Regions from separate parts of the Homo sapiens genome. Here regions 1 and 2 are each linked to region 3. The links come from fine-mapping of genetic effects on gene expression. A gene starts in region 3. Each other region holds a variant in brackets. All regions are shown on one strand. Distances are from middle to middle. Region 1 overlaps GCNT1 (glucosaminyl (N-acetyl) transferase 1). Region 2 has its middle 73 kb from the start of GCNT1. Region 3 holds the start of GCNT1 (glucosaminyl (N-acetyl) transferase 1).

The links.
Region 1: its variant is fine-mapped to the expression of GCNT1 in esophagus mucosa (GTEx, PIP 0.96).
Region 2: its variant is fine-mapped to the expression of GCNT1 in whole blood (INTERVAL, PIP 0.92).

What each region holds. Positions count from the first base shown.
Region 1 is chr9:76,481,522-76,489,705 of GRCh38, forward strand. The region is part of intron 2 of GCNT1 (glucosaminyl (N-acetyl) transferase 1); the gene reads left to right. Among named protein-coding and RNA genes, the nearest start is that of GCNT1, 26 kb to the left of the region's middle. The variant A/G (reference allele first, on the strand shown) is at 3,294.
Region 2 is chr9:76,527,911-76,536,094 of GRCh38, forward strand. No RefSeq gene overlaps it. Among named protein-coding and RNA genes, the nearest start is that of GCNT1, 73 kb to the left of the region's middle. The variant T/G (reference allele first, on the strand shown) is at 3,401.
Region 3 is chr9:76,454,736-76,462,919 of GRCh38, forward strand. It overlaps GCNT1 (glucosaminyl (N-acetyl) transferase 1), which reads left to right and starts at 4,447. Exons shown (of 4, transcript NM_001490.5): 1 at 4,447-4,570; 2 at 5,325-5,442. RefSeq lists silencers at 4,232-4,771, 5,762-5,831 and an enhancer at 5,382-5,491.

The sequences.
Region 1 (8,184 bases), 27 kb after region 3:
GAACACCCCTGCTTTAGAACATTGATTTGTATCAGTTATATATAAAAGCTGATTAGCCATCTTTATAGGTCTTAATTTTATCACTACCTGTAAGGCTTTTTAAAAATGTAGTTCTTATTTTAATTAGAGTTATAAATGCACGTGATTTAAAAAAGAAGATATTTCCACAAGCGTGTCAAGAACTACGAAGGGTCTGAGATTTTACCCTACTTGAAAGTTAACAAGCCTGTTAACAATTTTCATGGATCCTGGCAAAAGACACAGACTCCTGGGCCAGAGATGAAGTGCCATTTATGACCTATATTAAGCAGTAGCAGAGGATCAGCATTTTTCTTTTAGGTTGCTAGAGCCTTAATTCCCACAGGGCAGTATGAAGAGGGCCAAGTGATAACTACAAACAGTGGGTTGCATTATGGGAAAGAAACCCTGAGCTTAGAGAAGCCAAATCTTTTATAGTGGGCAGTAAGCATGCTGTGCTTTGCCCCAGGTAACATTGTCTTTATTATATTGTCAGTAAGAAGGTTTGCCCTTTGCTAGGGAGGGAAACACCATCTCTGTCTTTCTAGGCTGTTTGCTATAAAAATAGCCTTGAAAAAATTATCTGGAACAAAAAGACAGTGCCTCACTTGCAAGATGTACAGAAATGCAAGCCACCCATGGCGAATTGCCTCCCAACAAAGAGTTGTACTTACGAAAAACAGCATGCTTCTCCCAATGGCCCCCCAAATCTCCTACTCCCTAAAACTCCATTGTCCATTAGAAATATAATGTGAGAAATAAAATTTTCTAGTAGCAGCATTAAAAAAAAAAGAATCAGGGCTGGGCGTGGTGGCTCCATGCCTGTGATCCCAGCACTTTGGGAGGCTGAGGCGGGCGGATCACGAGGTCAGGAGATCGAGACCATCCTGGCTAACACGGTGAAACCCTGTCTCTACTAAAAATACAAAAAAAAATTAGCCGGGCGTGGTGGCAGGCGCCTGTAGTCCCAGCTACTCAGGAGGCTGAGGCAGGAGAATGGCGTGAACCCAGGAGGCAGAGCTTGCAGTGAGCCAAGATTGCACCACTGCACTTCAGCCTGGGCAACAGAGGGAGACTCCATCTCAAAAAAAAAAGAACTGGTAAAATCTTTTTTTATCCTTTTGAGACAGGGTCTTGCTCTCTTACCCAGGCTGGAGTGCAGTGGTGTGATCATGGCTCATTGCAGCCTCAATCTCCTGGGTTCAGGTGATCCTCCCACCTCAGCCTCCTGGGTAGCTGAGACTACAGGCATGCGCCACCACACCGGGCTAATTTTTTTTTTTTTTTTTTTGGTAGAGATGGGAGTCTCACTGTGTTGCCCAGGCTGGTCTCAAACTCCTGGACTCAAGTGATCCTCCTGCCTCAGCTTCCCAAGGTGCTGGGATTATAGGTGTGAGCCACTGCATCTGGCCAAATTAACAGTATATTATCTTTAATCTAGTATATCAAAATTTTATAATGTTAATATGTAAACAGTATAAAAAAGTGAAATATTGAAATGATACATGTGTCTAATATTTGTATTACAATGTAATAATAGTATCTTACATGATGTCATTAAAGTGAAATATAGTCCTACCGAAACAGTAATGTGTTTAAGGGAAAGACATTTAATACTGCTTCAAGTTTTAAAATGTAAATAATTAAAATTTTAAAAAAGTATTTGTTGAGACTAGCCTCATTTCAAGTGCTCAGTAGTTGCATGTGACTACTAGCTAACATTCTCTACTGCATAGCCCTGAAGTTAACCATTTTCAACTTTTTACAGATTTCTTTAGGTGTGTATTTTCATATCTCTAAATAATAATGCTTATATGGTTTCTAAATTATTCAGCTTTAAGTTCTTTCTACTATTAAGGAGGGGTTTTTTTTTTATTGTTTTTTGTTTTAATAGAGACAGGGTCTTTCTCTATCACCCAGTCTAGAGTGCAGTGGTGCAATCATAGCTCACCGCAGCCTCGAACTCCTGGGCTCAAGTGATCCTCCCATCTCAGCCTTCTGAGTAGCTGGGTCTACAGGCGTGCACCACCACACCCAGCTAATTTTTAAATTTTTCTTGTTTTTGTAGAGATGGTATCTCACCATTTTACTTAGGCTAGTCTCAAACTCTTGGGCTCAAGTGATCTTCCAACCTCAGCCTCCCAAAGTGCTACGATAACAGGCACAAGCCACCACACCTGACCATTAAGGAGGGTTTAATTCTCTTTCAACCAAAACCCTCCACCACACTTGCACTCATTTCCTGGCTGTCTCTCATCCCCAAAGTCAATGATTCTGAAAAACTTTTTGTCGTGTGTGTGTATTTTTAAATATGAGATGGGGTCTTGCTATGTTGATTCAGGTTGTTCCAGGCTGATCTGGAACTCTTGGGCTCAAGTGTTCTTCCCGCCTCAACCTTCCAAGTAGCTGGGATCGTAAGTGTGTGCCACCATGCCTGGCCTGAAAACTTTTTTATTTCAGCACTGTTTATACTTTAAAAAAATCACTGAGGATCACAAAGAGCTTTTGTTTATGTGGGTTATATCTATTGGTATATATTCTATCAGAAAGTAAAACTGAGGCTGGACATGGTGGCTCACGCCTGTAATCCTAGCACTTTGGGAGGCCAAGGCAGGAGGCTTGCTTGAGGCCAGGAATTCAAGATCAAGTTTAAGTCCAGCTTGGGCATCATAGTGAGACCCTATCTCTACAAAAATAAGCAGCCAGGTGCACCTGTGGTTGCAGCTACTTGAGAGGCTAAGGTGGAAGGATCCCCAGGAGTTTGAGCCTGCAGTGAGCCAAGATAATGACATTGTACTACAGACTGGGTGATGGATTGAGACCCTGTCTTAAAAAAAAAAAAAAGAGAGAGAAAGCAAAAAACTTAAGTATTACTTCTGTGAAAATAACAATGATAAGCCCTTTATTTTAACATAAGTAATTTCTTGTGAAAATCTTTTCAGAAAAATTGGAAGAATAACAGTGTTTTTGTATTTTTGCAAATCTCTTTTACTGTTTGACTTAATAGAAAATACCTGAATTCTGATACTTCTGCACTTATTCTGTTGAAAACAAACACATCATGTAGACCCTGGAAAACTGCGCCGTATATAACACAGAGGGAGTGAAAAGGGTGCAGAATGGCCTAGTATTATTATGAAAATAGTTTTGAGACCCTCTGTATATTGTCATGCTTTTTGTTTGACCACAACTCAATGTTTATATTACTATAGCCATGTATAAACTGAGCATAGCATACCATGATTGCTTTTTTTTTTTTTTTTTTCTGAGATGGA[A/G]TCTCACTCTGTTACCCAGGCTGGAGTGCAGTGGCACCATTTTGGGTCACTGCAACCTCCGCCTCCCAGATTCAAGTGATTCTCCTGCCTCAGCCTCCAGAGTAGCTGGGACTACAGACTCGTGCCACCACACCCAGCTAATTTTTGTATTTTTAGTAAACACGGGGTTTCACCATGTTGGCCAGGCTTGTCTCAAACTCCAGACCTCATGATCCGCCCACCTTGGCCTCCCAAAGTGCTGGGATTACTGGCGTGAGCCGCCGCGCCCGACCATGATTTCTTTTATTGTACATACTTGTTGGCATATTTTACTCACTTGTACTCAATGGCATTTTTTCATATTGTTTGTTTATTATATGTACTTTTATGTTTTTTGGAGATGGAGTCTCACTCCGTCACCCAGGCTGGAGTGCAGTGGTGCTATCTCGGCTCACTTCAACCTCCACCTCCCAGGTTCAAGTGATTATCCTGCCTTAGCCTCCCAAGCACCTGGGATTATGGGCGCATGCCACCACACCCGGCTAATTTTTTGTGTTTTTAGTAGAGACAGGGTTTTGCCGAGTTGGCCAGCCTGGTCTTGAACTCCTGACCTCAAGTGATCAGCTTGCCTCGGCCTCCCAAAGTGCTGGGAGGCCTGCATTTTACTTATTTAATTCTGGCCTGCACCTGGCCTGCATTTTACTTATTTAATTCTGAACTCTACCTTAGTTATCAAAATCTCTTCTAAATCCATTAATTTACAGCAGGGGTTCTCTGTTTCTCTCAAATATTTTCTGGAGCTGTTTACTTGCTTTAATTAAGGACTGGTTTCTTCCTAGTACTCCCACACAACCATCATCTTGGGATCTGTCTTTGTAATCCTAGGATTTCTGTTGCCTCTCATTTATATTGGGTCCCTTGATTACTGGATCCTGTCTCTTCCTTTTTTTTTTTTGAGACAAGGTCTCACTCTGCTGTCACCCAGGCTGAAGTGCAGTGGCTCAGTCTCACTCATTGCAACCTCCGCCTCCCAGGTTCAAGTGATTCTCCTGCCTCAGCCTCCCAAGTAGCTGGGATTACAGGTGTGCGCCACCACATCTGGTTAATTTTTGTATTTTCAGTAGAGATGAGGTTTCGCCATATCGGCCAGGCTGGCCTGAACTCCAGACCTCAAGTGATCTGCCTGCCTCGGCCTCCCAAAGTGCTGGGATTATAGGCGTGAGCCACTGTGCCTGGCCAGATCCTGTCTTTTTCTTAATGGGCAGTAGAGCGCAAACTTGGGGGCCAGATTATGTGAGTTTGAAGCCTAGCTCTTCTGCTTACTAGCCATATGACGTTCGAAGAGCTATTTAACCTCTTTATGCCTCAGTTTCCTTATCTGGAAAATAATACTTTCTATGTAGCATTCTCCTGAAGATTCTATGTGTTAATACGGGTAAGCCATTTAGAAGAGTTCCAGAGCATATTAAGCACTCCAGGTTAGTGATGTTGTTAATGCTCTTACAGTTGCTGGTGAATTTCATCTTTTAGTGGCATACTTCTCATAGTAACCTGCTGAGAAAGGTGCATGTGACTTTGCTGTATAAAAATGCCTTTCTGTTACATCACATTTGACCAATAGCTTGGCTGGTTATTTAGAATTCCAAGTTGAAAACAGTTTTCCTTCAGAATTTGGAAAGCATTGCTCTATTTTAGTCTACCTTTCAGCAGAAGGTGGGCTGTAAATTGCACGGTCTCAGCTTTCCCCATAGCCTGCTTTAGGATTCAGCTTCCTGAGATCTCCAAGTCAGTTATCATTCACTACCTCTAATTTTCAAATTTTTGATGCTACTACTTCAGTTATATTCTTTGTGTTTGAGGGACTTAGCCTTTTTTGAAAAATTGCTTATTATCATTTTATCTTAAACAGAGTATGCTTTTAGATATCTTCAGTTCCTGCAAGTTTGTGGGGAACTAGAAACAGAACTCTTTTCTGGCAGTCAAAAGAGAAGAAAGAATAGGGCTGGGTGCAGTGGCTCATGCCTACAATCCTAGCACTTCGGGAGGCAGAGGTGGGTGGATCACTTGAGGTCAGGAGTTCGAGACCAGCCTGGCCACAATGGTGAGACCCTCATCTCTACTTAAAACAAACAAACAAACAAACAAACAAAACTAGATCTAAATTTTTAGCAGAAGAGCTTGGCCGGTTCCTCATGGCCAGCCACAGTTAGGGTCTCAGCAGTTTGTTCAGTGTGAGACCACAGAGGAGCTAAGCAGCTCACTGCAGGGAGTCACAGACAGGTATCAGAGACTACCCTCCAAGCAGGGCAAGGTTGTGGTGGGGACAGAGACCAAATACCCTAAGATGAGATGAGGCTATGAAAGTGCAATTGGCCAGAAAGAACTCCACCCTGAATGGCAAGGCCTTCGCCTTGTGATCTTACCTGTTTCCTGCTCCTTCCCTTGACCTACCTTGGGTGGCGTTTGGGCTCCCTCACTTGGGTCACAGTCCTCCGAGATACTGGCATGGCTTTGACATCAAACACAGTAGTTGGTATTTTGCTCCAGTCACAGCAGCCTCTGGGACACTGAACAGTAGTCCTTGGAGAGTCAGTGAAATTGATAAGTATTCACTGGGACTAGAAGCCAACTGAACTTAGACCATGCTTCCTGCTGCCGAAGGGCAATAGGTTGGTGACCCAGGTTTATCCATCAGCGGTTTGTTTATGCATAGATGTGTGCATATGCTTACGTGCATATGTAGGCATGAGCCACCGCGCCCAGCCAGTTTTGTCTTCTTGAAGATGTCTCTCCCAGGGCCTTCTGACAGGTTCCAGTCTGCTGTGGTTGTCTGTTGGCTTGTTATATGGCCTAGATGTTCCTTGACCTGGGGATTCTCTTTTTTTTCTTCTTCGGTTAGATCTCCTTTCTGATTCTTACATCCTCCCCTTTCTTGGTTAATAATGCATACATATATTTGAGACAGGGTCTCACTCCTGTTGCCTAGGCTGGAGTGCAGTGGTGCGATCATGGCTTACTGCAGCCTTGACCTCCTGGGCTCAGGTGATCCTCCCACCTCAGTCCCCTGAGTAGCTGGGACTACAGGTGCACACCACCACACGCAGATAATTTCATATTTTTTGTAGAGACAGAGTCTCTCCGTGTTGCCCAGGCTGGTCTTGAACTCCTAGGCTCAGGCGATCCACTCGCCTCCACCTCCCAAAGTGCTAGGATCAGAGGCATGAGCCATGGCACCTGTCTAATAATTATTGAATATAACTCATTCTCCAGTAGCTGGACAGTAGCTGGAATACATTTTGCTTCTGAATCCATTTGATGTGGCTTAGTTTCCCCCCTCCCCTGAAAGTATATGCAGTATTCTTCCTCCCATTGTTCTGACATTTCATGATTAATGAATACATCTTGGTGTGGGTCTATTGTCATCCACTGTGCTGATACCCTAGAAGATTTTGCAATCTAGAAACCATTCTTTCATTTTGGGAAATACTCTTGAATTATTTAGTTGACGACTTCTTTCCTTTTTTCTTTTTCTTCTGTTTTCTTTTTCTGGAGCTCTTGTTATTCGTATGGTAGGTCTCCTGATCTAGTTCTCTAAATTACTGTATGTTTTGTTTTATTTTCTCATCCCTCAGTTTGTCTATTTGCTTAACTCGCTGTGAGTGTTTCTCACTTTATCTTCCAACCCTTTTATTGAGTTTCTCTATTTTTGGAGCTGGAGTCTTGCTCTGTTGCTCAGGGTGGAGTGCAATGGCACAGTCTCCGCTCACTACAACCTCTTCCTCCTGGGTTCAAGCGATTGTTCTGTCTCAGCCTCCCAAGTAGCTGGGATTACAGGCACACACCACCATGCCCCGCTAATTTTTGTACTTTTAGTAGAAACAGGGTTTCATCATGTTGGCCAGGCTGGTCCCAAACTCATGCCTTAGGTGATCTGTCTGCCTCGTCCTCCCAAAGTTCTGGGATTACAGGCCTGAGCCACTGTGCCCAGCCTAAGCCAGCGCACCTGGCCGAGTTTTTCATTTTTGCTATCATGTTAATAATTTTCAAGGGCTCTTTTTATTTGCTAGTTCTATTTATGTGGTTTCCTGTTTGTTCTAGTCATCTATTGCTATGAGGCAAACCACTTCAAATGTAGTAGGATACAACAATATCATTTTATTTTTTTGCTCACACATTCTGTTGGTCAAGAATTCGGTGAAGACTGGAGTTACTAGGGGCTGTAGTCATCTGATGGCTTCTTCACTCACATGTCAGACATCTGGCTGGGATTACTTGAAAACAGGGTTCAGCTGGAACAGTTGACTAAGGTACCTATATCTGGTCTCTCCATGTGGCTTCTTACAGCATGGAAGCTGGTTCTAAAAGGGAGCCTCTATCTAGAGAGCACATTTTTCAAGACAACTGGGCGGAAGCTGCATGGTTTTACATGACCTTGCCTTGATGGTGACATAGTATTTCTTTTGCCAAACTTTATTGGTCAAACCATAATCATAATGTGTCTGGAGTTGGTTCCTTCTGGAGGGTTCTTGGTCTCACTGACTTTAAAAATGAAGCCGCAGACCTTTGCAGTGAGTGTTACAGCTCTTAAAGGTGGTGTGGACCCAAAGAGTGAGCAGCAGCAAGATTTATTGTGAAGAGCAAAAGAACAAAGCTTCCACAGGCGTGGAAAGAGACCCCAGCGGGTTGCCACTGCTGGCTCAGGTGTCCAGCTTTTTATTCCTTTATTTGGACCCGCCCATGTCCTGCTGATTGGTCCGTTTTACAGAATGCTGATTGGTCCATTTTACACAGTGCTGATTGGTCTATTTTTACAGAATGCTGATTGGTGCATTTACAATCCTCTAGCTAGACACAGAGCACTGATGGGTGTTTTTACAATCCTCTAGCTAGACAGAAAAGTTCTCCAAGTCCC
Region 2 (8,184 bases), 73 kb after region 3:
CGAGTTTGTTCCTTCTGATGTTCAGATGTGTCCAGAGTTTCTTCCTTCTGGGGGGTTGCTGGTCTTGCTGACTTCAGGAGTGAAGCTGCAGACCTTCGCAGTGAGTGGGCGGCGCATCTGGAGTTGTTCGTTCCTTCCAGTGGGTTCGTGGTCTCACTGGCCTCAGGAGTGAAACTGCAGACCTTTGCTGTGAGTGTTACAGTTCATAAAGGTGGCACGTCCAGAGTTGTTCGTTCCTCCCATCTGGAATTGTTCATTCCTCCCATCTGGAATTGTTCATTCCTCCCATCTGGAATTGTTCATTCCTCCCATCTGGAATTGTTCATCCCTCCCCGTGGGTTCATGGTCTCCCTGGCTGGCTTCAGGAGTGAAGCTGCAGACCTTCGCACTGAGTGTTACAGCTCATTGTTACAGCTCATAAAGGCAGCGTGGACCCAAAGGGTGAGCAGCAACAACATTTACTTCTAAGAGGCAAAGAACAAAGCCTTGGCAGAGTAGAAGGGGACACAGTTAACCAAGTAGCCACTGCTGCCTCAGGTGGCGTGGCTTTTATTCCCTTATCTGGCCCCACCCACATCCTATTGATTGGTCCATTTTACAGAGAGCTGATTGGTCCATTTTACAGAGAGCTGATTGGTCCGTTTTACAGAGAGTTGATTGGTCTGTCTTGACAGAGTGCTGATTGGTGTGTTTACAAACCTTTAGTTAGACACAGAGTGCTGATTGGTGCGTTTACAATCCTTTAGCCAGAGGGAAAAGTTCTCCAGGTCTCCACCCAACCCAAAAGCCCAGCTGGCTTCACCTCTCAATGGCACTGGCCGCCAGGACTTTTGGGCACCTACCCCGGGCATTCCGGCAACCCAGAGGGAGCTCGTACCTGGATCAAGCCCAGCAGGCGCCGAGTGTGGGACCCGCTCCCAGCCCGCGCCCACCTGGAACCCGTGCTGGCCCACTAGCGCCACAGCCCCAGCTGCCGCCCTCGCCTCTGCCTCCACACCTCCCTGTGAGCAGAGGGAGCCGGCTCCCGCCTCGGCCAGCCCCAGAGAGGGGCCCCCACAGCACAGCTGCGGGCTGAAGGGCTCCTGGAGTGTGGCCAGAGCAGATGCTGAGGCCAAGGAGGCACCGGGAGTGAGCAAGGGCTGCTAGCACGTTGTCACCTCTCAAAACCACTTGAGCTTTACCATCCAACATAATATCCTTTCGTTATCTCCTCACTATAGTTCTAGAACTATCATTTGCACATTTTATGTTAGATATGATGGATCAAAATTGTTTACCAGAACTTAAATGGTAAAAAGAGGCCATATTAATTACATACTGCATTGACAATATTGATGATGCTTTGTTTCAGATATACTATATATCGATGTTAACTGCTTTTGAAATATTTGAAAATTAGCCAGGTGGGATGGCTCACATCTGTAATCCCAATACTTTGGGAAGCCAAGATGGCAGGATCGCTTGAGCGCAGGAGTTGGAGACCAACCTGGGCAACACAGTGACACCCTGTCTCTATATTTAAAAAAAAAATTGAAAATTGATACTTGTTTTTGAAATACTTGGCTTTATACATGTGTGTATAATAAAAAACAAGTATCTGCTTTGTGTAGGGCAGCACCAAAGTGGTATGTGTACATTTTCCTGGAAGAACGGAACATTGGAGGAAAAAGTGTTTGGATGCCGTGGGACAAGAGACAGGATTGAATGGGAGAGTGGAAGATAGGATGTTGTCTGTTCCTCAGCCCAGGCTCAGAGACCAGTAATTCACTGGAGTTACTATTTACATGAAGGACTTTGGGAGGCTCCAGGTACAAGCACAGATGTTTCAGGACTTCAGTGAAACATATTACCCTGATTTATAGACGGAGAAGCTTCCCCCTTCCTGGGTGCCTGCAGCACAGCTTTTAACACTGGGTTGGGATGGAAGGTTCTCCAGTGCTGTGTGGGCACCATGAGGAACTGAAAGTTTGGAAACAGCACCTAGATAAAAAGGCTGAAGTAGACACCAGCTAAAGTAATACTAACGAGGCATCTCCTAACAGGGCTTCTTGGCAGTGGAAAGGAGCAGCACAGAAAAATCTGACTGGGGCTGGGCGCGGTGGCTAACGCCTGTAATCCCAGCAGTTTGGGAGTCCAATGTGGGCGGATCACCTGAGATCAGGAGTTCGAGACCAGTCTAACCAACATGGTGAAACCCCATCTCTACTAAAATACAATTAAAAAAAAAAAATCAGCCGGTCGTGGTGGCACGCACCTGTAGTCCCAGTTACTCGGGAGGCTGAGGCAGGGAAATCACTTGAACCTGGGAGGCAGAGGCTGCAGTGAGCCAAGATTGCGCCACTGCACTCCAGCCTGGCAACAGAGCAAGACTCCGTCTCAAAAAAACAAACAACAGCAACAAAAAAACAAGAATTAGCTGAGCAGGGCGGCGTGTGCCTGTGGTCCCAGCTACTAGGGGGACTGAGGCAGGAGGATCTCTTGATCCCAGGAGGTGGAGCTTGCAGTGAGCCGAGATGGACCTACTGCACTCCAGCCTGGGTGACAGAGTGAGACTCCCATCTCAAAAAAAAAAAAAAAAAATCTGATTGGCCTTGGTACTGAGCACTTGGAAGGGGTCTCTAGTTATGGCTGGGGAAGCTTTAAAAGGTGGGCTGAGATCCTGTAGTCTGTAGAGGGGGCCCACTCAGCTAGGGAAATGTGGATGCTATCAATGTTAACGTCACTGAAGACATTTCATTAACCACAGGGCTGTATTTTTTTAGGCATTTGAACCAACCTATTTAGTAACTGCCAGGGCCACATGAGGACTTTCTTAGGCCCCAACCACGTTGCCTCTGTGGGCTCCTTCCTTCTTAAGAAAAAACAATAAAAATTGTATTTCACAACTGCATTAGTGTAAATATAAATATAATCCAGGCTGGGTCCATTATAATATATTCATTTTTTTCTTCTGATTTTAACGGAAATAAAAATGAAACCACTTTCTGTAGGCCTCTGAAAGTATTGTCGGTCGCAGGCACTCTGCCTGCTGTGACTAATGGAGACATTGTCCCTAGTAACTGCTTTCCTTTCGTTTTTTTTCCAGCAGCTTCTTCCCTCTTCCCTCACTTATGGCCCCTCCTGACAATTTTGTTGATTTCTATCCAAATCAGCCCTTTCACTAAGATTGAAAAGTTGCTTGTAAATTGGCCATGTTTAATCATTTGCCAGATATTTCAATTTTTAAAAAAACATTGTTATTAAATTGTTGATTTCTCAAATGGATTTGCTATTTTGAGAAAAAATATACTAACTATATACTCAAAATTGATTTTTTATAAAAGCAGGAAGCTACAGTTTTCTATGGGTACATGGACCCTAAAAACCTTCTGTTGTTTTTCCTAAATCCCAAACCCAGATT[T/G]TTTGTGTGGGTTCTAGAATCAGGGAGAGCAGTTCTGTGGGCTCTACTATTCAGAAAACACCACGGTCAACTGAGTCAACATAATCAGCCTTCCTGCCAACCACCCTTCAGCAACCACTCAACTATTTACTCCTTGATGGGAGGGCACTGCCAGAAAGTTTGCTCTCAGATTAAAAGCAAAACAAAATAAAAACAGCGATGTTTTCAGAAAAGAACTATTTCATTAGGTTTCTCTATTTGTCCTCTCCTCTGTCCACATTGCTAACATACTGGAAAGAGGTTGCTGGACTGGTTTGGTTTCTTAGGTGAGAGGAACATTAACTGGCCCCCAATTCTCAACCAGGCTGTTCGCTTTTCTGGCTTTAAAAGAAAATCAAGGGTGGGTACAGTGGCTCACCCTGTAATGCCAGCACTTTGAGAGACCAAAGCAGGAGGGTCACTTGAGCCCAGGAGTTCAAGACCAGCCTTGGCAACATGGTGAAACCTTGTCTCCAAGTCCTGAGTTCAGGCAATCCCGTCACCTCAGCCTCCCAAAGTGCTAGGATTATAGGCATGAGCCACCATGCCTGGCCTTCTTCAAAAACTTTAGAAATTAGCCAGGCATGGTGGCCTGTAGTCCCAGCTACTTGGGAGGTTGAGGTAGGAGGATTGCTTGATCCCAGGAGTATGAGACCGCAGTGAGTCGTGATTGTGCCACTGCACTCCATCCTGGGTAACAGAGTGAGACTTTGTCTCAACAACAAGAGAAAAGAAAGTTGACCAGGTGCGGTGGCTCACTCCTGTAATCCCAGCACTTTGGGAGGCTGAGGCAGGAGAATCATTTGAGCCCAGGAGTTTGAGACCAGTCTGGACAACATGGTAAAAACCCATTTCTACAAAAAATTTAAAAATTAGCTGGGCATGGTGGCCTGTAGTCCCTGCTACTGGGAGGCTGAGGCGGTAGGATTATTTGAGCCCAGGAATTCAAGACCACAGTGAGCCATAATCTCACCACTGTATTCATTCCAGCCTGGTCTCACAGAGTGAGACCCTATCACCAAAAAAGTTCCGGTACTTTGGGAGGCGGAGGCTAGAGGATCGCTTGAGCTCAGTAGTTTGAGACCAGCCTGGGCAAAATGGCGAAACTCTCTCTACAAAAAAAAAAATAAAATTTTTTCAAAAAAGAAAACCCTAAGTAGAAGAATATTCTCACAATCAGCTGGAAATATCAAGTATGATTCTGAAAGAAACAAATAACTGACATAAGATATAAGGTGCTATATGAGCATTTTCTTTTCTTGTTTTAAGATACGGTCCTCAGTAGCATATATGAACATTTTGATTTGAGTATGTATGAGTCTCCCAAGAACTTTTAAATTCTTCAACATCCCTTTTCTAGGGTAAAAGTGTTACTGAAGGACAGAGTGGCAGTCAATGCAGCCAAAGCAAAGGGCCTCCCCATTTAGTCCTAACTTATCTGTTCAGTGGCATCTCTCTCCTTTTTTTTTTTTTTTTTGTTGAGATGGAGTCTCATTCTGCCACCCAGGCTGAAGTGCCATGGTGATATCTCAGCTCACTGCAACCTCCGCCTCCCCAGTTCAAGCGATTCTCTTGCCTCAGACTCCCAACTAGCTGGGACTACAGGCATGTGCCACCACACCCAGCTAATGTTTGTATTTTCAGTAGAGATGGGGTTTTGCTATGTTGGCTAGGCTGGTCTCAAACTCCTGACCTCAAGTGATTCACCTGCTTCAACCTCCCAAAGTACTGGGATTACAGTGTGAGCCACTGCGCCCGGCCTAGTGGCATCTCTTACATGCTGTTTCATGTACCTTAAGCTCCAGCCACTTCAATTTTCCGTTACTCCTTTAACATAAGAATGTGTTCTCTTTCAACTCAGCAGTAAATGTGTCCCCACTTCTGCCTGGAATGTGCCCTCTTCCCCAACACAAATCCCTTCATCTCCCTTCATGTGAGCAGCCCCTTCTCCTAGACACAATTCCCACATCTCTCCAGCCTGTGTAATGTTTCCTGCATTCTCAGGGAAGGGGCTACTTTATAGGTGAAAGAGGAATGTGAGGGATACAGCTACAAAGACCACCATGTGCAGTTTGCCCGGGACTGAGGGGCTGTTCAGAATACAGGACTTTCAGTGTAAAATCTGACAGTTTCAGATAAACAAGCATGGTTAGTCACCATATATACCACACTCCTGAACCTTTCATAAAAAAAAAAAAAAAATGATTTGGGGGAAAAAAAATAAAGATTTGTTGACAAAATCTAGCTACTCAAGAGAAGAATCAAAACTAAGAGATCAGAAATATAGAAGGTTTGGCAAAAGAAATGGTAATGAGCACTGACTATATTTACATATAAAATTAAAAGGAAACACGGCAGAAATTATAGTCAGCACATAAGCTTTATAAACCTTAACCATGTAAAACTTATAACAATACAAATAAATTTTGGAAAGTGGAGAAAGGGAGGAAGTCAGGAGGTCATGTGCTGTACTAATTTTTTATATTTCATAAGAGGAAGTAAATGGATTCTGTCCAGAATTAAAACTAATAGTAAGAAAAAAAAGAAAGCTCTAAAATGACCAACTTCTTAATGGCTTTCCGTAATGTTTTCACTGAGCCCTAGAAGGATCTCTTAGGAATGCCTACTTTATTGTAAAGAAACATTCATTTGAAGTTATACTTTACTTTTTTCCCTTTTAAAAATATTAAATTATAATCTTTCATCTTAAAAATAGCATTTTTATTATATCCTTCTTTTATCTTTCTGTTTATCTAGCTGGCTAACCACAGAAATTCTGAGAAAAGTGACTAAATGTTACTAAATGTTGAGATTGCTTGCTCCTAGCTATTTGGATTTGGGGTGGAGGAGGATAAAACTTTTTTTGTGTGTCTTTTGGTATTTTTAAATTTAAATAGCTCTATGATGATTGATTTTATGTGTCAACTTGGCTAGGCCATGGTACTCAGATATCTAGTCAAGCATTATTCTAGATGTTTCTGCGAAGGGATTTTTTCTAGATGAGGTTAACATTTATATCAGTAGCCTTTGAGTAAAGCAGATTATACTCCATCATGTGGGTGGACCTCATCTAGTCAGTTGAAAGCCTTAATAATGAAAAAGACTGGCTTCTCCAGAAAAAGAAAGAATTCCACCAGCAGATGGTCTTTGGACTCAAACTGCAGCTCTTCCCTGGGTCTGTAGCCTGCTGGTTTACCCTGTGGATGTTGGACTTGTGAGCTTCCACGATCTCATGAGCCAACTTCTTAAAATCAATCTCTCTCTCTCTGTCTCTCTTTACATGTATACATATACATATACATATACATATACATATACATATACATATACATATACATACAGTCATTCTTCATACAGTCATCCTTCAGTAACTGTGGAGGATTGGTTTCAGGACCCCTTGAAAATACCAAAATTCAAGGATGCTTAAGTCCCTTGTATAAAATGTTGTAGTATTTGCAAGTAACCTATGCAGGCCCTCCTGTATACTCTAAATCATCTCTAGATTACTTCTAATTCCTATGTGAAAGGAAAATCTTTTGACCCCCAAATTACTAAGCTAAGGGAAAAGTCAAGCTGGGAACTGCTCAGGACAAACCTGCCTCTCATTGTATTCAAAGTCATCCCTCTGCTCACAGAAATAGATGCATATTCTGATTGCCTCCTTCTTATCGGAAGCTCAAAGACTGCAACCATTTGTCTCTCAGCTACCTATGACCCGGAAGCCCCCTCCCTGCTTTGAGTTGTCCCTCAGAACCAATGTAGTTCTTACATACATTGATTGATGTCTCATGTCTCCCTAAAATGTGTAAAACCAAGCTGTGCCCTGATCACCTTGGGCTCATGTCATCAGGATCTCCTGAGGCTGTGTCATGGATGCACGTCCTTAACTTTGGCAAATAAACCTCCTAAAATGATTGAGACTTGTCTTGTCATTTTTCTCGATTGACACCTAAGACAATGTAAATGCTATGTAAATAGTTGTTATACTATATTGTTTAGGGAATAATGACCAGAAAAGAATTCTATATATGTTAGTTAAAGATGCAATTATCCTCTCTTTTTTCCCCCCAAATATTTTCAATCTGCAGTTGGATGTGGAACCCACAGAGGGCTGACTGTGTATGCACCCCCCCTCCACACACACACACACACACACACACACACACACACGCACACAGTATACACAGTGTATAGAGACACACACACACATCCTGTTCTGTTTCTCTGGAGAACCCTAACACAAATACTTAACACACATGTATAACGTGTATAAAAACAACATCGTTATTCAAGATAATTATTCATTTTTATTAAAAAAAGTTTTATGTGAGAAAATAGGTCTAGAGGAATTTAGAAAAATGTCCAAGGGGACCTCCATAAGCCCCTTGCTCAGCTAGTTAGAGGTAGAGCTGAGAATAAGATCCCTGAATGATTGACTCAAGAGTTCACCTTCCTTTCCACTGAGCTATGATGGTTCCTGTATCGTTATCTAGTAAATTGGCAATATAGAAGCACTAAATGCTTGGAGAATACAGAATATGAGGTAGATCTTGATGGCTTCATAGAATCACCTGGGAGGAGAGAAATGTTGAAGTATTCGCAGGCAGGAAACAGTGTTGAACTAAAACCTTAAAGGAGAGGATGAGGGTAATATGTCTATAGGTTTGGATGGTTATAGGGTAGATGTACTATAAGTGAAAAAAAATCAAGGTATGGAGCAGTATGAATGTCACCCTTATTATATGAATATATGTATGTATATATAC
Region 3 (8,184 bases):
CTGCCGCCGTGTAAGATGTGCCTCTTCCCCTGCTGTCATGATTAAAAGTTTCCTGAGGCCCCCCCAGCCAGGCAAAACTGTGAGTCAATTAAACCTCTTTTCTTTTCTTTTTTTTTTTTTTTTTTTTTTGTTAGACAGAGTCTCACTCTGTCGCCAGGCTGGAGTGCAGTGGCATGATCTCAGCTCACTGCAACCTCCGCCTCCCGGGTTCAAGCGACTCTCCTGCCTCAGCCTCCTGAGTAGCTGGGATTACAGGCGTGCACCACCACGCCTGGATAATTTTTGTATTTTTAGTAGAGACAGAGTTTCACCATGTTGGTCAGGCTGGTCTCGAACTCCTAACCTTGTGATTCGCCCGCCTCAGCCTCCCAGAGTGCTGAGATTACAGGCGTGAGCCACCGCACCCAGCCTTTAAACCTCTTTTCTTTATAAATCATCCAGTCTCAGAAATGTCTTTATAGCAATGTGAAAGCAGACTAATACAGGACATTAAGGGGCTTATTCCAAATTCCAATGCTGGTTTAGGCTGAGACTAGATTAAAGGGCAAAGACCTGATGGAAGGAGAAAAGCCTCATTGAAGTTTGATCAAGTAAGGTATTTGCCCAGATTGATCAGTAGGGGCAAATGGTTCAGCTAACCATTTATAAGATGAGAATGGAAATTTGGAGCGCATGTCTATGGCCTTGTTGTAAGTGTGAAAGGATGTTATCCATGATGATTACCTAAGTCATTTGGGGAAAGGTGGTTCTATGTAGTTAGTGGTTTCTCAGAAAATACAGCCGGGAGAGGATGTTCACTGGTCTCCAGTAACACAAAGTATAGGTCAAGCAACACCATCCCCTTACTTTTTTTTTAATTTATTCTTATTTATTTATCTATTTTTGAGATGGAATCTTGCTCTGTCACCCAGGCTGGAGTGCAGTGGCATGATCTTGGCTCACTGGAACCTCCGCCTCCCAGATTCAACCGATTCTCGTGCCTCAGCCTCCCCAGTAGCTAGGATTACAGGCATGTGCCACCGCACCCAGCTAATTTTTATATTTTTAGTAGAGACGGGGTTTCGCCATGTTGGCTAGGCTGGAACTCGAACTCCTTACCTCAAGTGATCTGCCCACCTCGGCCTCCCGAAGTGCTGGGATTACAGGCATAAGCCACCATGCCCTGCCTCTGTCCCGTTATTTGATTGTACTTGTAACTATAGTTTTATTATGACATTTTAAGAATATATTGCTATTGTATTAATCATTACTATGACAGCTGTGTTTATCAGACACTTTCCCACATCTATAATATTAGGAGAGTTGGGTGTTTGTGATCATGAGTTTGCTCCTTGTGCTGGTTATTGAAGTATGTCTTAGAGTTCAAACTCAAGCTTCTATCTTCTGCTTTGTGAGCCAGGGCTGGGACTTAGCAAATCACATTTCCTATAAGGTTTTGCTTATAAGGGGTGCTTGAGGAGAGGGACTTGCTACTTTATAGCTGCTTACTGTTCCTGTCCATGTTACCAAGCAATGGCTCTTCTCCCTGGCTGCAGCAACAGCTGGTTCCAGTTTCTTAGATTTGTTTGTTTGTTTTAATCCACCCTCTCCCATCCAGCCTCAATATTTACCTTCAGAGATAAAAGCACCAGCTGGGTACCGCCCCCTCCTTTGAGGTCTGACTCCCAGCCAACCAGGGGCCCTCTCCTGGCTGTTAGGTTCTGATAACCCCAACACTTCCCCTCTCCCCAGCTCTGTGCATGGCAGCTGCTTCCTGCAGTTACTCTCTCTCTGTTACTACAATGTTTTTGCCTTGCCAATCTTCATGACCTTAAATTCTCTGTAAAAGTAATTGCTGTGATTTCTGTTTTCTGACTGGGCCCTGACTGATACACCCCTAAGCATTCCAGAAATACCTTCTAAACTACTTGTATAGATTTATGGGTGTATGTTATTGCAGGCATTAAAAATAAGTGGGCTGGGCAAGGTGGCTCACACCTGTAATCCCAGCATTATGGGAGACTGAGGTGGGTGGATCGCTTGAGCGTGGGAGTTCAAACCCAGCCTGGGCAACATGGTGAAACCCTATCTCTACAAAAAATACCAAAAAATTACCGGGCATGGTGGCACACACCTGTAGTCCCAGCTACTTGGGAGGTTGAGGTGAGAGAATCACCTGAGCAGGGGTAAGTTGAGGCTGCAGTGAGCTGTGATTGCGCCACTGTGCTCCAGCCTGAGTAACAGAGTGAGACCCTGTCACATACACAAACAAAATGGATTACACTTATGGTATACAGGCAGTATCCAACTGACAAACAAGATATATTCCAAAAGTTAATTCATAAATCTATTGCTTGGCCACCACCCCTGGTTAATTTATCTATTTTTATTTTGTAGAGGTGAGGTCTGGCTATGCTGCCCAGGCTGATCTCAAACTCCCAGGCTCAAGTGATACTTGTACCTCGGCTTCCTAAAGTGTTGGAATTACAAGCGTGAGCCATTGCAAACAGCCAGCTATATTTTATTTTTAATTAATTAATTTATTTATTTTTGAGATGGAGCCTTGCTTTGTCACGCAGGCCAGAGTGCAGTGGCACGATCTCAGCTCACTGCAACCTCCACCTCCCGGGTTCAAGCGATTCTCATGCCTCAGCCTCCTGAGTAGCTGGGACTGCAGGCACACGCCACCGCAGCTGGCTAATTTTTGTATTTTTAGTAGAGACGGGGTTTTGGTATGTTGGCCAGGCTGGACTCAAACTCCTGACTTCAGGTGATCCACCCACCTCGGCCTCCCAAAGTGCTGGAATTACAGGCATGAGCCACTGTGCCCAGCCCCGGCTATACTTTAAACTTATGTTTAGCAATTAACATGTCAGTATTTTAACTTACAAATGACTCAGACATTTAATGAATATCTATTACTTAATTTAATATGTTCGAAATTTCAAGTCACCAAAAAAGATTTTTAAAACTATTTTTAAGTAGACAAATTTTATAAAACAAATTATTTTTAAAAGTTTATAAACTTTTATTCCATTTACATTTACCTAATCTACTTGCTCTTAACAATTATGCTTGAATTGCTCATGAAAAATTTCATGAGATATTAAACAAAGCTAGCCATTGAAGGAGTTCAGGAGTTTTTCCCAAAATCATTTCCTCTCCCCTAAATTGTCCCTCCCCAATGAAGAGGATACACAAGCTCCTAAAATCTCAGTTTTTGTTGGGGGAGGCAGAGGGAATATTAGTTTTTCTTTTCTGTGATACCCCCTACACGAAATCTGTGTACTTTTTCTCTTGTTAATCTACCTGCAGTCAATTTATTTCATAGACTTAGTTATCCAAGCCTCAGAGAGTAGAGGGGAAGTCTTTCTTCCTCTATACCATCATCTTATGTTAATTTTTGTTGACAAATCAGGCAAGTGTCAAACATATCACAGTCTAATGGCCTCTGAGTTGGATTTTTTTTTTTTTTTTTTTTTTTTTGAGATGGAGTCTCGCTCTGTTGCCCAGGCTGGAGTGCAGTGACACGATCTCGGCTCACTGCAAGCTCCGCCTCCCGGGTTCACGCCATTCTCCTGACTCAGCCTCCCGAGTAGCTGGGACTACAGGCGCCCGCCACCACGCCTGGCTAATTTTTTGTATATTTAGTAGAGACGCGGTTTCACCATGTTAGCCAGGATGGTCTCGATCTCCTGACCTGGTGATCCGCCCGCCTCGGCCTCCCAAAGTGCTGGGATTACAGGCGTGAGCCACCGCGCCCGGCCAGAATTTTTTTTAAACAACATGGAAACAAATAAGACCTCGTTCTGTTTTCTAGGAGCTAAAAATCCAACGAAAGAAGACACAGACACAATATTCCCCTTGTTACAAAGAGAACTGTGTCAACTTTTATAACTGACACAAAGATCTGTGCTATAAGGGCGGGGAAGGTTTTTTCCTACTTTCCACAGCACTGTGGATTGTTCCACAGTTTAATTTGATCTTAATTTTTATGTGGAAATACACATGAATGTAATGAGTTCTTAAATGCTAAATTTAGGAAGCAAGGTTCGTTAGGGGAGAGAAAAAAACACCTACATGGTTATCTCTAAACTTTACATATCGAGAACCTTGGAATTTAATTTTATTGTTGTTCTGTAACATATTTTCATGTTTAAAATCAGAAAAGGCAGCATTTCTCGAGTTTCCTGCTTTCGAGGAAGGGAGGCATAAAATGTTTAAAAAGACGCCGCTCACACACCTCTTAAGAATCAGAGCACAGTGAGGAAGAGGAGCGAGGAAGCACTAGGATCGCAGCGCTACTCCCAGACCACGTCAGTGCCCAGAGGGCGCCCTCGCCTGTAGGCGGGAACCGCGAGTCCGCAGCAAGTCCCCAGCCCCGAGCTCGCGCAGGTGGGCGAGGCGGGGACGTGGTGGGCGGGGCCTAGAAAGGCGGGGCCTCTGGGGGCGGCCCCGGGGCGGGCCACGCTGGTGTGAGGGCTGCAGGCGCAGCTCCGGAGCGCCTAGAGCGCGGCGCGGGGCGGGAGCTTGGTGGAGCAGGAGCGGCTGGGCATCCTCCTGAGACTCCGGGGTCAGACGCCCACTCCAGGTAACCGGCTCTCCCTCGTGTTCCCCTGCTCGGCCGCCCGGCGGTGGGGGAAGGCTGAGAAGGATGGGTGGGAGGGAGCCGGCTCTCAGCCAGTGCCCCGTGGCCCCGGGCGGGCTGGGCTCCCCCGCGGAGGAGGAAGCAGAACCGGGGTGCGCCCGGGACCGGAATGGAGCGGCGCCTCTTCCTTCCACCTTCATTTTCCGTCCGCTCAGTGGGGCTGGGACGCCGGTGCCCCGTGTCCCCTGAAAGTCACTTTCTGGCCTCTTGCCCCTGGTCCGTGTAGCTTAGATGTCGGAGGGGTTGGCTGCGGGCGTGGATAGGCAGGGAACGAACAGACTCGCTGCCATCCCATGGGTGCCAGGGGCTTAACTTCATTTAACTTCATTGAATCCTAACGCCAGCCCGGCTAAGATGCATTTTCACCCCTACTTTACTGATAAAGAGGCCAACGCTAGGATAATAAATGACTCACCCTGGAGCAAACTATTACTAATAAGAAAAGAGACGTTAGTTTAGGGGCTCCGAAGCCTCTCCTTTCCTGCTCCCTCGCTTTCCTTCTTCTCGCGGCAGTCTAGGAAACTCGCGCGCAGGGTCTATTACGAAAACAAGTGATTCGTCTTAAAAGCATTTTACCCCCTCCTAGGTTTCTCTTTCCTCTTTTTTTTAAGTATCTCAGGCAGATTCCTCCAAGTTTTGGTTATTAGGTTTTTGAAATGGAAGAAGCCCTTGCTCACTGCTTCTTTTCTCCTGGCAGCGCTTTCTGCGCAGCACAGGCACCCTCGCCTGTCACGCCTCCCTCTCCTCTTCCCGTCTCCCAGCGTGGATGAGGGCGCCTGCAGATCCCGGCTAGGGCACGGACCGCCTAGGCCGAGGTAGGTTCTGTAGGCACCTGGCATGCTGTAGATGCATATAAACGTTGCCCTGTACACCCTTTGCCTTGTTATTTCTTTCTGCAGAAAAGAGAGTCGGTTTTTTACACATAATGGGGCAAGAGGCCAATTGGGAAGATATATGGTGTTCAAAGAAAGCCGTGGTGCCTTGAGATGAGAATGCGGCCACAGCTTTTTGTGGGCTGAATTTGATGGGTGGGAGGTGAGAGACGTGGTCTGGAAGTTGTCTCTTCGTCTGGCATTCTGCCCCCCTTCCAGAGCTGTTCTGAAAGGCCGGTTTGTTTTATAGAGGGGAGGAGGAGGGCTTAGTAGTTTTTAAAGATCAGTGTAAATTACCTGCTAGGAGCTTAGGCAATTCCAGGCAGGCCCCCCTGCTGGAGGCTTTCGTAACAGATTTCAGTTCTAGCAGGGAGGAAAACTCAGACTGTGTAGATACCTGCTTTTTCTTAAAGGAATTTTTTTCGGGCCCTTAAAATGGTAGTTTTGGGAAACTGATTTCTTAGAAATGGCAAACTCCTTTATTTTAAAATACAATATACCAAACTATGAATTTACTTTTAAAAAGTTTTATTGGCCGAGAGGTTGATATTTTTTCCATTTCATGATGAGGGTTTGACGGTCACTGCCACCTCCTCTGCCCGTCCTTCAACTTGGCCCTGTAAAGGATCTCCTTAGCCTTGGCCCCAAGTTTGTACTAGATTCTATCCTTCATTAATTATAGTTCATTCTTGATTAATGATAGCAATGCTTCCACTCACTTTTTAAGGAGTTACTCCTTTTCCGTTTGTAATTGAATTGCTTAACAGTAAGAAAAACGTTTTTCCCTAAAACTGGGATCACAAAATCCACTTTATCCACATGGACTAAACAGGTAATGCACAAGAGTGCTTGGTTGGGCCCAGGTGACTGCAGAGGAACCTGCTAAGGCTGGGTGGATATTGGCCATTTCCACCGAGTATCCATGCAGGAATTCCCATTCAGCCATACAGTGTAGGCAGCTTTTTTTTTTTTTTTTTTTTTCCACGAATAGCTGAGAACTTTTACTTAAAAATAAAAAATGTAAAGCCTGATTTTAAATATTGGCTCATATTTTTTCCTTTTTAGAACACAAAGAGGGCCGGGCGCAGTGGCTCACACCTGTAATCCCGGCACTTTGGGAGGCCCAGGCGGGTGGATCACGAGGTCAGGAGTTCAAGACCAGCCTGGCCAAGATGGTGTCTCTACTAAAAATTCAAAAATTAGCTGGGCGTGGTGGCTAGGCGCCTGTAATCCCAGCTACTCGGGAGGCTGAGACGGAGAATTGCTTGAACCCGGGAGGCGGAGGTTGCAGTGAGCCGAGATTGCACCACTGCACTCCAGCCTGGGTGACAGAGCGAGAGTCTGTCTCAAAAAAAAAAACACACACAAAGAGCCTGGGCATGGTGGCTCACACCTGTAATCCCAACATTTTGGGAGGCTGAGGCAGGTGGATCACTTGAGGTCAGGAGTTCAAGACCAGCCTGACCAACATGGCAAAACCCCATCTCTACAAAAATATTCAAAAATTAGCCAGGTGTGGTGGTGGGCACCTGTAATCCTAGCTACTCAGGAGGCTGAGGCAGGATAATTGCTTGAACCCGGGAGGCGGAGGTTAGGATGAGCAGGGATCGTGCCACTGCACTCAAGCCTGGACGACAGAGTGAAGCTCCGTCTCAAAACAAAAATCCCACAAAGAATAAAATCAAATTTGTTTCATGCATCATCTGTTTGCAAAACTCTGCCTTAAAAACTGCTACTGTACACGGTGATTATATTCTCCGATGAATGGAAAATTCTGAACTGTGATGTAGATATTGTACATTTTTCATGAAATGAAGTGGTAGAAAACAGAAATTACTACTGGAAATGATCCCTTCTGACTGTCAAATTCTGTTTTCTATGAAGTGTGTGGTATTTCAGCTATACTGTATTTTTTTTTTTTTTATAGAGCCAACCAAGGACTCTTGTCACTATTTTTATTTATTCTAATGAGAAATGTATTCATGGTTCCAGGTCAGTATGTCAAATGTCTAACTCCCTGTCTTAAAAAGGGAGTTCCCAAATGACTGTTCATATAACCATATGTGTTTCTTGTGGAGACTGTCTGTATTCTTGGCTTTGTCACTGGATTTGTGGCTTAGTGCTGTCACGTTTCCTATCTGAGGCAAATGCCATATATGTTTAGACCAGCCTTTCTCAATTGTGGCACTTTTGCCATTTTTGGCCAGTTAAATTCTGTTGTGGGGGCTGTCCTGTGCATTGCAGGATGTTTAGCAGCATCTCTGGCCTCTACCTACTAAATGCCAGTGCACCCTCCCTGCAGTTAAATGACCCCAAATGTCTCCAGACATAGGCAAATGTTCCCCGGAGAACAAAGTCATCTTTGGTTGAGGAACAAAATGAACCTATATTTAAGATGGTCTAAATGTTTCTGAGATGGTCTAAACATTTATAAGCTTAACAATTAACTTGAAACTCTTCAGGACTAGAGAAGCTATTTGTAAATTTAAACATCTGACGCCTTGAAACACCTTTATCATAAAGATAACTAAACCAGTGTTCTTTGTGAATGGCCAATGTGTCCTGCCAGTTTCTTTTTTTTTCTTTTTCCTATTCTGAGAAGCATGCCCTGCCAGTTTCTATCTCCAAAGAAATTTCAAGCGTTCAGTGTATTTGTTAAATTTCATAAAGTTTAAAAAGTTGAAA